Linked DNA regions of Homo sapiens: region 2 is linked to region 1. The links come from fine-mapping of genetic effects on gene expression. A gene starts in region 1. The other region holds a variant in brackets. All regions are shown on one strand. Distances are from middle to middle.

Region 1 (5,384 bases):
GCCTTGTAGCCACAGGAATCAACACATGTCTCTGCAACACTTCAAATTAACTCAGGCCTCAACAAGGCAGAGAGGGGTGTAGCCATACAGGCATGATCAGGGCCAGCTTATCACCATTCACTGGGAGACTGGCTGGAATGTGGATGTGCCGAGTGAAAAGTCAAATGTCTGCCTAATAGCAGAGCCCTCCACTCTGAAACACAAATGGCCCACTACATTCCTCACTCATAATTTTTAAAAATTTTTTAAAAAAATCTTTTACCCTAATGTCCAGTAGGCTATTGAACACTAGCTATCAATTTTTTGCCCTATGCCCTACAGTTAAAAATAAATGGCCAGGCAGGGTGGCTCACACCTGTAATCCCAGCACTTTGGGAGGCTGAGGCGGGCAGATCACAAGGTCAGGAGATCGAGACCATCCTGGCCAACATGGTGAAACCCCGTCTCTACTAAAAATACAAAAATTAGCTGGGTATGGTGGCATGCCTGTAGTTCCAGCTACTTAGGAGGCTGAGGCAGGAGAATTGCTTGAACCCGGGAGACAGGTTGCAGTGAGCTGAGATCATGCCACTGCACTCCAGCCTGGGTGACAGAACGAGACTCCATCACAAAATAAACAAATAAATAAATGTGTGTGCATAAATATGTACACACATATACATATGTATATTTTATATACACAAGTATTTGTATATCTAAAACCAGTTTCACAAAACAGTACCCTCATTACATGCATAGCTCAAATTTTTTAATTTCTTTATAATCTAGTTATCTTAATAACTTTTTAAAATGCTGGTTTTGACCTAGAGATTTTTAACCTTGTGTGTGTGTGTATATGTGTTTGTGTGTGTGTGTGTATCTGTTTGTGTGTATGTGTGTGTGTGTATGCATGTGTGCACGTGCCATTTCTACCCCATGTGATGAAGCCTATGGATCCTTTCTTGTAGTGTTTTTAAATGCATAAAGCAAAACTCTTAGGCTTACAAAGGAAATCAATGATATTGAAATACAATTCTATCCTTGGGCCTCTTGTGGGGAAAGGGCAGTGTCCACAGACCCAGGTTAAGAATCTCTGCATGGGTAAATTGATTTCCCAGCTGACTGCTGAGCCACAACCTGCAGTTTGGAAAATAAGGCTGTACAAAGCCTCAGAACATTTTGTTGTAGTTAAGTATTTCAGATGCTTATTATCCTGTCACGGTTTTAACCCTCTTTTCCCTCCCTTTCCCCATGCTCCCTCTATCCAGTCACCCACACCCCACCACATGCACATGCATGTGTACTCACTTACATGCATGCACATATATGTTGCCACATATCCACATACACATAGGCACACACATGCACAGGCACACACATGCAGATCTTAGGTCACATATCTGGAATGAGATGAGGCACTAGACCACTGGGTCCAGCCCCTCCTGTGACCCCAGTCCCACTCCCTGACTGCCTCTGTGTCACAGCTCCTCTGGCTCCTGCCTCAGAACTACTCTAGTGGCTCATTATCTCTGCAGGGCAGCGCTCACCATCACGACTTTCTTGTTTTCTTTCACAGCATTGTGAGCCAATAGGTGCATTCTGCCTCAGAATAGTGGTGGAGACTGGTGGTGGCACAGCCCAGAGCTCTTGACGTTTATTTTCTCAGGCTTCAGTGAACCTTCTGTGGCAGGTGTTTCCTTTTGATAGGCGGCAGTTCCTCCCTGGGTCACTCCAGCCTGCAGCTGAAGCCCTCACTTAGCTCACTGTGGCTGTACTGAACACACCACCTCCCAACATGGAGCAGCCTAGCCAGGGGGTGCGGGAAGGAAAGATGGTTGCTGCCACAAATGAATGACTCAGCTACCTTCTCCAATGGTTTGATATTGACGTTTCCTCCTGTCATAGCAAAAATGCCCAGGTGAACTGTTTTCTCCATCGCATGTAGAAAGATGATGGTTGTCTGAACTGGTTCCAGGTAATGGACAGTGGTAAGCGCTCCCTTCTCTTATAGTATGTTATGGATTGAAGTGTGTCTCCCCACAAAAAGATATTACTGGAGTCCTAACCCTGAATATTTCAGAATGTGACCTTATTTGGAGATAGTGTGTTTACTGAGGTAATCAAATTTAAATGAGGTCATTACAGTCTCTAATCCAATAAGACTAGTGTCTTATAACAGAAACGAACGCTTACAGAGGGAAGACAATGTAAAGAGACACATGGAGAAGATGGCTGTATTTCCATTCTCATGCTGCTATAAGGACATACCCAAGACTGGGTAATTTATAAAGGCAAGAGGTTTAATTAACTCACAGTTCAGCATGGCTGGGGAGGCCTCAGGAAACTTAGAATCACGGCAGAAGGGGAAGCAAACACGTCCTTCTTCAAGTGGTGGCAGGAAGAGAACTGAGTGAGTAAAATGAGGAAAGTCCCCTTATCAGATCTCCTGAGAACTCACTCACTTTCACGAGAACAGCGTGAAGGTAACTGCCCCCATGATTCAATTACCTCCCCCGGGTCCCTTCCATGACACGTGGAGATTATGGGAACTACAATTCAAGATGGGGTTTGGGTGAGGACACAGCCAAACCATATCAACAGCCATCTGTAAGCCAAGGAGAGAGGCCTGGAACAGATACTTCCCTCGCAGCTCCCAGAAGGAGCCAATCCTGCCGACACCTTGATTTCAGACTTCTGGCCTCCAGATTGTGAGACAAGAACAGCAACTCGGCCTGTGTTCTCTGCCCTTGAGGTTGAAACAGGGAGCAGAAGGTTTTTTTTCCCCTCTGTGTTGCAGCATGGAGTTCTGAATGACAGATGAGGGGTTGATCACCCTCCACACCCATGCTAAGCCTTATGGCTTCACGGGGTTCAGGCTTCCTGTGTTCAGTCTTCTGTGTTGCCAGAAAAATTTGCATACTCCCATGGACAAAGAAAGCAGCAGAGGAGAAAGAAGAGCTTTCATTCACTTCCTCTTTGGGGTGAGAGCAAGTCTGAATGCTCTAGAATTGATTCTATTAGAAAAACTCTCTGACCCCAAATATGAATATTTTCACCACACCCAATACTCATAATTTTAAAAATAGATCTTTTGAGTTTCATCCTGACTAGTAACCTAAAGATCACTGACTTCTGATTTATTTTTTTATCATGCTCTACAGTTAGAAATGCAAACATATAGACTAGAGAGGGCCACAGAGGTGTTTGATCCCATCACTTCATGTAGGTAGGAAGATGTTGAACCCCTGAGAGGGGTCGGAACTTGTCCAAGATCACACAGCAGGCAGAGTACATCAGGACCTCAAACCCATATCTTCTGCCCTCTCCTCCTAAGGTCTCCATCACTAACACCCTGTCACGGTCCATCCTGCTAAGGAAGTCTCTACTATAAAATCCCATACCTTGAAAATTAATTGTTTTTCCACTCACACGTTACCACCCTTCCCTCCTGCAAACATTTGGAAGTTGAAAGGTCGCACAGCCTTCATGAAATTAACCAGAAGAATTGAAAGGAAGCTGATGACAAAAGTACTTCAAAATCTGTTTTTCATGAAAACAGCTTTTTCTTTTCCCCCTCAGATCAAACTGAATTTTTCTTTTTATTTTTGCGGTATTCTTCTAATTGTGCCTTTTTAAATGTGTTTGAAATAGTTCTTTGTTTCTGTAGATTAATCACCTTTCAATGCTCTCCTTTTTTAAAAAAAACAAAATTTTAAAACTTTTAAATAAAATTTTCATTTGTTAACTCTCAGTCCTTCTCCTTTATCATAATTCACTTTTCCTATCATGTTCAGTGAATTATACAATTAATTACTTTTTCAGCTTGCAAATGGTTTGCTATTGTATATGTCATGTTTTCTTTTGGATGAGAAAACACTTATTTCACACAATAGTGCCATTGCTTTTATTATTCTTCCTGTCACTGAGAGGGGGGAAAGACCAAGAACCAAACAATAAGACTTTTATTTACAGCTACTGGAAAGCTGTCCTGAAGGTCGCTACAAGCCTCTGCCATTGTGTGCTTCCATCTTGGACATGCCATCCGAGATGCCTAGAATGGCAGGGGTCTTCCAGAGCATGGAGTCTTATCTCGTTTCACAGTTGAAGAAACTGAGGCACATAGGTCCTCCCAGGGCCATGCAGCTACCTAATGCCAGATCCGGAACTAAACTTCAGGTTCTTGACTCCCAACCCACTGTCTTTTCCACTGCCCAGAAAATCCCAGGAATTCTTTCCAAGCTCCCTGAATTCATCCCAAGCTAGTGTTGCAATCCATTTGCTTTTATCTCAGCAGCGTTGGAAAAAAGGGGCTGTCATGAATCCTGGCTCAATAATAGGAGTTTACATAATAATTTGCATAATCTGGTTGATTAGTTTCATGTTGCGCCAGCTCCAGCCTTCAAGTCATCTTCATAAGTTCTTTCGTGTATCAGAATCCAGAAGCTGTCAGGAGGAATCTGCACATGGGCTTGTGGGGGTAAGAGGATGGGATCTGGTGTCAGACCTGGGCAAGTTATTAACCTCCCTCTGCCTCCACTTTCCCTGATATAAAATAAGGATACTGAGAGCATCTCTGTCATGTTGCCTTTTTTCAGGATTACATGAAAAAAAAGTAGGCTTAATATTCATAACAACTCAATAAATATTTATTATTCTTGCTACCAATGAGGACATACTATTTGATAGGGGTTTAATAAAAGTTTATAAGGAAATATAAAACCGTAATTAGTGCAACTGCAACAGTTGTGGTGTGGTGCAGTAGAAATCATTCTGGGCTATGAATTGGGATATCTGAGCCCCAGATTCAACTTCACCATGAATGAGCTATGTGGCCAGCAAGGAGCTGTCTCTCCTCTCTCGGTCAGTTTCTTAACCAACAAATCTAATCCTAATCTCCAAATGGGAGAGAGGAACTCCCTGAAAAGTACAATTTAACTGACTCACAACCTGTCAAAGCTACCCAATCTTACAGCAGAAGAAGGGGAACCCCTGCCAAGAATTATTGTCCCCTGCTCAATGAGGAAGGTGATTCCTTGGTCCGCCTCCATGAGGAAGATAATTGTTGGGCCATCACTCTGAAGCATCCTGGCCCTAAAGCAGGAATAATTCCACCCTTGCCTTCATGGGAGCCACCTGCCTGAGCTCAAGCCGGAGAAAGGAGCAGATGAACAATGAATGTCACAGCAATTCGTTTTGGCAATTAGGCAGGCAATTAGTTCTGCAGCATGTAGAATGGGAGGAGAAAGTAAATCAGCACTGAGAGGTGACAGGGAAATATGATTAGGACATCAGGTGCCAGTGACACCCAGGTGGAAAGTCATGCATTAGGGTCCCAGCCTCCCCTTCCCCACCACCGCCACGACAAAGGAAGGAGCTTTCCAGAGACCCTGGAAAACAACTGCTTT
Region 2 (5,384 bases), 13 kb before region 1:
CCTTGAAGAAATCCAATGATTAATAGTTAGGTAAAGAAGGATGAGGAACAACCACATTATGGTCTGAATCCCTGCTGTCCCAAATCCACCCACAAGAGAAACTAGGACAGCAGCTGCATCTAGAGCCTGCTAGGGTGCTTATCCCTCCTAACAATGTGTATGTGTAGCCAGGAGGGAAGGAGCCAAGTGTTCTTGAAGGGATCCCAAAGTCAAAGGCCTGGTTCAAGGAATAAAGGAGGATATGAAGTAGGAGACTACAAAGCCAAGCTGGAAGCAGGTCAGTAGCAGGTCAGAAACCAGAGAAACAGGAGCTGGGAAATTACAGTTGACCCTTGAACAATGTGGAGGTTAGGGGCACCAACCCCTCATGCAGTTGAAAATCCAAGTATAACTTTTGATCCTCAAGAACTTAACTACTAATACCCCACTGATGGCCCAAAGCCTTGCCAATAACATTAACAGTCAGTTAACACATATTCTGTATATTATATGTATTATATACTGTGTTCTTACAATGAAGTAAGCTAGAAAAAGAATGTTATTAAGAAAATTACAACAAATATAGTTATTATTCATTAAGTGGAAGTGGATCAGTCATCAAGGTCTTCATTCTCATCATCTTCATGTTGAGTAGGCGGAAGAGGAGGGGGTTTGTTTAGCAGGAATAGCAGAGGCAAAAGAAAACCCATGTATAAGTGGACCAGTGCAGTTGAAACCTGTGTTGTTCAAGGGTCAACGGCACTGCTAACACATGAGACGCCCAGGACATCCTAATGAAGATAGGTGGACAGGATTGGAGAAACCAGAAGATTCCATAATATTCTTAAATACATAGATGCCTACTGCTCAGAACCACCTATCCTAGAAGTATTTAGAGTTTTCTGCTTATAAAGAATGAAATAGACCAGGTGCAGTCACTCATGCCTGAAATCCCAGCACTTACGAGGCCAAGGCAGGCAGATTACTTGAGGTCTGGAGTTCGAGACCAGCCTGGCCAACATGGCAAAACCTCCGTCTCTACTAAAAGAACAAAAATTAGCTGAGCTTGGTGGCATACACCTGTAATCCCAGCTACTCAGGAGGCTGAGGCACAAGTATTGCTTGAACCTGGAATACAGAGGTTGCAGTGAGCTGAGATTGCCACCCTGCACTCCAGCCTGGATGACAGAGCAAGACTCTGTCTCAAAAAAAAAAAGAATGAAATAGAAGAGTTTTATAGCCCCTTTATCAGTTCAGTGGTTTAAAAGTGTTCTGTGGCTGGGCGTGGTGCCTCACACTTGTAATCCTAGCACTTTGGGAGGCCAAAATGGGCGGATTGCCTGAGGTCAGGAGTTCGAGCCCAGTCTGGCCAACATGGTGAAACCCCATCTCTACTAAAAATACAGAAAAGTTAGGCAGGCGTGGTGGCATGCGCCTGTAATCCCAGCTACTCTGGAGGCTGAGGCAGGGGAATTGCTTGAACCAGAGAGGTGGAGGTTGCAGTGAGCCAGATTGTGCCACTGCACTCCAGCCTTGGTGACAGAGCGAGACTCCATCTCAAAACAAACAAACAAACAAAACAACAACAACAACAACAAAGTGTTCTTTATGTCAGTCATGCTGCAGTATGAAATTTTGATACTTATACGTTATGACAATATGTTACTTTAAAAAGTATATCTTCTCTGGTATTTTCAGCTACTGTTATTGTTTTGGGATATAATATATCAGACAAGAAGTATTTAACCAAAACCCAGCTGACAATTTCAAAATGTTCTAAAAATATTTATTGATATGTTGATAATGATTCCAGTAATAGTGATTGATATCATCAATGTTAGCATCAACATTGTTCAGTAACAATAGGATCTGGTCAAATGTGATATCTGTGTTATGAAAAGCTATACATGCATACTTCAGAGATAGTGTGAGGCAGTTCCAGACCAAAGTAATAAAGCAAATATTACAATAAAGTAAGTCACTTTTTTTAGTTTCCCATGGCATATAAAAATTATACTTAGGCTACATTTTAGTCAAGTGTGCAATAGCATTATGTCTAAAAAACAATGTACATACCTTCATTAAAAATATGTTATTGCTAAAAAATGCTGTCACAGAGGCAGGAAGTGAGCATATGCTCTTGCAAAAATGATGCCAATAGACTCACTCGATGAAAAGTTGCCACAAATCTTCAATTTGTAAAAAACACATTCTTCGAGAAGTGCAATAAAATGAAGCGCAATGAAACAAGTGTGTATGGTGTGTGTGTGGGGTGGTGTGTGTTCAGAAAGATAGGAGTGTGCAATGGCAAGGAAACTCAATTTAAAGCAAATTTGGATTGAGACCAAATATATAGTAATAGAATTTGCATTATTAAATAAAGTATTGACATTGACTCATACTCGTAGAAGTCTATTCTCATTATGATGA[T/G]AGCTACTCTTTCTTCCATTAGATTGATGAATTGCTGAAGGAAGCAAAAAGTAAATTCATCTCAGTAAGTGAAAATCATTTCATTGAGCATGAATTTTTGGGGTCCAGCCCCATACTAAAATAGTCACAAGTTGAATACCAAATGGTCTCTAGCCTAGGCCATTCTCAGTCAAAGGCAAACATACAACGCTTGTTCAAAGGAAGAAATATTATTACCTGAAATTTAACAAAGATCTTGGAAAATATTTAAATAGGCTAAAGCGACTTGTAATTTTTTTTCCCCCGAGTAGGCATGTTGTTCTGAAAGCTCTCCGGGCTGACATTGCCTGTTTACTTATTGATTGCGTCTTTTTCACTGTGCCAACAGCATTCTAGCCTCAGGGATCATTTTCCAATGTAGCTTTTTAAATGTTTTTAATTAGGACATTGTAATGGATTAAAGGCAGGCAGAGACTGAAAAGTAGCTACCTTTCTACACACACCTTAGGCAAACACACACTTCAAAAACATTCCGTCCGCCCCCCTCCCCCCGCCCCCCCCCCACCCCAAGTTTCAGTCTCCCTGTTGCTGCCCTGCCCCTCTCTCTTCAAGAACCCTTGGTTTCGGTTGTTGGAGTTTGGGGGCAGGGTGAAAAATCAATCATCCAGCCCTCACCTTCCAGTTCCACGCAGTTAAGAACTTGGCAAAATGAGCAAGCAGAGGATCAAAGCGTGGTATCAGCTTTAGCAGTGGTAAAGCTGGATTGGATAACACTACACGTTCCAAGCACAATATCAGCTTTAGGTAATGGGCCAGAGAGCACAGGGTTCTTTATTAAACTGCAGGAAATGCAACTGGACCCACTTCCCTTCTGCTCTATGTCTGCACTGGGGACTCACTGGACCAGGACTTATTAGCCATCTTGAAGCAGAGAAGCAAGAACGAAAGACCCAGCAGGACCCACCTGTAACGAGCTGACTACATGGGGACAAAGACAGGCATGTACAGCTCCTAGGAGCACTTGTGAGGCAGGAGAATAGGGTCTGGAGGCAGGGAATGTAAGGCCAATTCACGCTGACTTCCTAGAACTAAATCAAAAGGAAAACCCCCACTTTCCACGCCCAAGTGCCCAAGTAACAAAAGGACCAGAGGCTACTCCCTTTGCAACACCCCTCACCTGCCACCCTTTTTCTGCATTGCAGGTGAAAAACTGAAAGTCCCTCTGATTGGTCCCCTCTCACAACCAATCAGGTTGGTTGTGGGCCAAGTCTTCATTTGCGTGGGAGTATTACTTTGTAACTTCACTTCAGCCTCTAATTGGTCACTTTCCACAACTAATCAGACGTTTGCATTCTGATTGGTCCCTTCCAACCAATCAGACTGATCACAGGCCACTACTTCATATACATAGGGTGTACACCAAGTAACCAATGGAAACTTCTAAAGGGTATTTAAACCCCAGAAAGTTCTGTAACTGGGCCCTTGAGCTGCTTGCTCGGCCTGCTCCCACCCTGTGGAGTGTGTTTTCATTTTCAATACATCTCTGCTTTTGTTGCTTCTTTCTTTTCTTGCTTTGTTTGTGAGTTTTGTCCAATTCTTTGTTCAAAGCGCCAAGAACCTGGACACCCTTCACTGGTAACACTTGGGTCTGAGAGACCTAGAGAAAAAGAGAAATGACTCATGAACACTTAACTTTGTCAGGTAAAGAAACCTGGCAGAGTGGGTATCAAGTTTTCCCCAGTCTCACCAATCAGAAAAACCATCTTTCTCCCAAGAAAAGAGATGAGTGAGCAGGGAAGGGAGGGGCTGTAGTACTTTCCCCAAGAAGGCCATAATTCTAGATACACATGGAGAAACAATTATATTCCATTTATCCACTAAAAATAATACACAAGTTTTATTTTTCCCCCTTTCATATCAAGCACTGGTTAGAGATGACCCAGAAATCCAAAGATGGAAAGAACTTTACTGAGGTAAAGTTTATTTATGTTCATCATTTGGATGATATTAACCCTCTTTTTCAATCGGAAGCAAAGGATTTTTAGATGGGTTAATTCAGTCTCTCTGAGGAGCTGATACAGTTTGCTGTAAATGTGTTTTGCTTCACAGACAATAGTGCTGTGATGGAATGGTTGGTCCATGAGTCTGTGAATAAATGAATAAATCACACACCTGTTAAATTGTGTGCTGCACATAATCAAGGGGTTGTGATGTTGTTTTTTTTTAAAGCAAAAATGTTGCTTCTCTCCATTTGCTGCTCCTAAACAATTTCTAAATGTAGTGTCTTGTATTTTCCCCATTTAGTGAAGTTCAAAGTACTTCATGGTGCTCACACATGTGAATTCTAAATCTATGTATTGTCCCCATCAATTCTCAGAGTTGCAAATATAAGCACTGTGATTTGGCATAGGAGCAAATTAAAATATACCAACATTCTAATCCTTCCCCAGGTCATATTGTAAGTCAGGGTTGGAGAAGTAGGAGTGATAGAGTCTGAAAGGATACCATGAAGCATGCCACTCACCTGGGCAGGCACCCCGTGGGAGTGTATAAGGATGTAGGATTCTGGAGGAACCCACAAAAGTCCTGGAGCCTTAGGCTCCAATTCAAGAACACCTACCATGAATGACATCTCCATGCCAGGAACGTGACCACTGTGTCCACTGGCCAGGCCAACAGAAGGAGGAAACCATGAAGCTGCTGGGTTTTAAAACTTATGCATGGATAGCTTCCAAGCTCTCAGTTGTATCATGTAGTTTTAAAAAAAATGTCCTCTTCCTGAGTGGGGAACTGCAATCCATTATGAATGAAGACACTGCATTGTTATCTAAGTAGACAATAATGACAATATTGATTTTTATTTACTTTGTACCAATTATCTCCCAAAATATTCAGAGAAAAGGGTACAGACTCTGATGCTTCAAATTCATGCTCCATATTCTAGTTGTTTGTCATTGGTCAAATGACTGAGCCTACCTGAATTTGTTTACTAAACC

What was found. PIP is the estimated chance that this variant, and not a neighbour inherited with it, causes the effect. A credible set is the group of variants that fine-mapping cannot tell apart.
Region 2: its variant is the best candidate, but not a certain one, in a credible set for the expression of LINC01215 in whole blood (INTERVAL, PIP 0.69).

What each region holds. Positions count from the first base shown.
Region 1 is chr3:108,122,051-108,127,434 of GRCh38, reverse strand. LINC01215 (long intergenic non-protein coding RNA 1215) reads right to left here and starts at 2,371. Exons shown (of 2, transcript NR_110030.1): 1 at 2,293-2,371. LOC105374031 (a long non-coding RNA gene) reads right to left here. Exons shown (of 8, transcript XR_007095997.1): 8 at 4,289-5,384. RefSeq lists enhancers at 1,359-1,458, 1,959-2,038, 2,259-2,308, 2,589-2,728, 2,799-2,848 and 2 more.
Region 2 is chr3:108,134,975-108,140,358 of GRCh38, reverse strand. LINC01215 (long intergenic non-protein coding RNA 1215) reads right to left here. Exons shown (of 2, transcript NR_110030.1): 2 at 1,749-4,045. Among named protein-coding and RNA genes, the nearest start is that of LINC01215, 13 kb to the right of the region's middle. RefSeq lists an enhancer at 3,647-3,786. The variant T/G (reference allele first, on the strand shown) is at 2,410.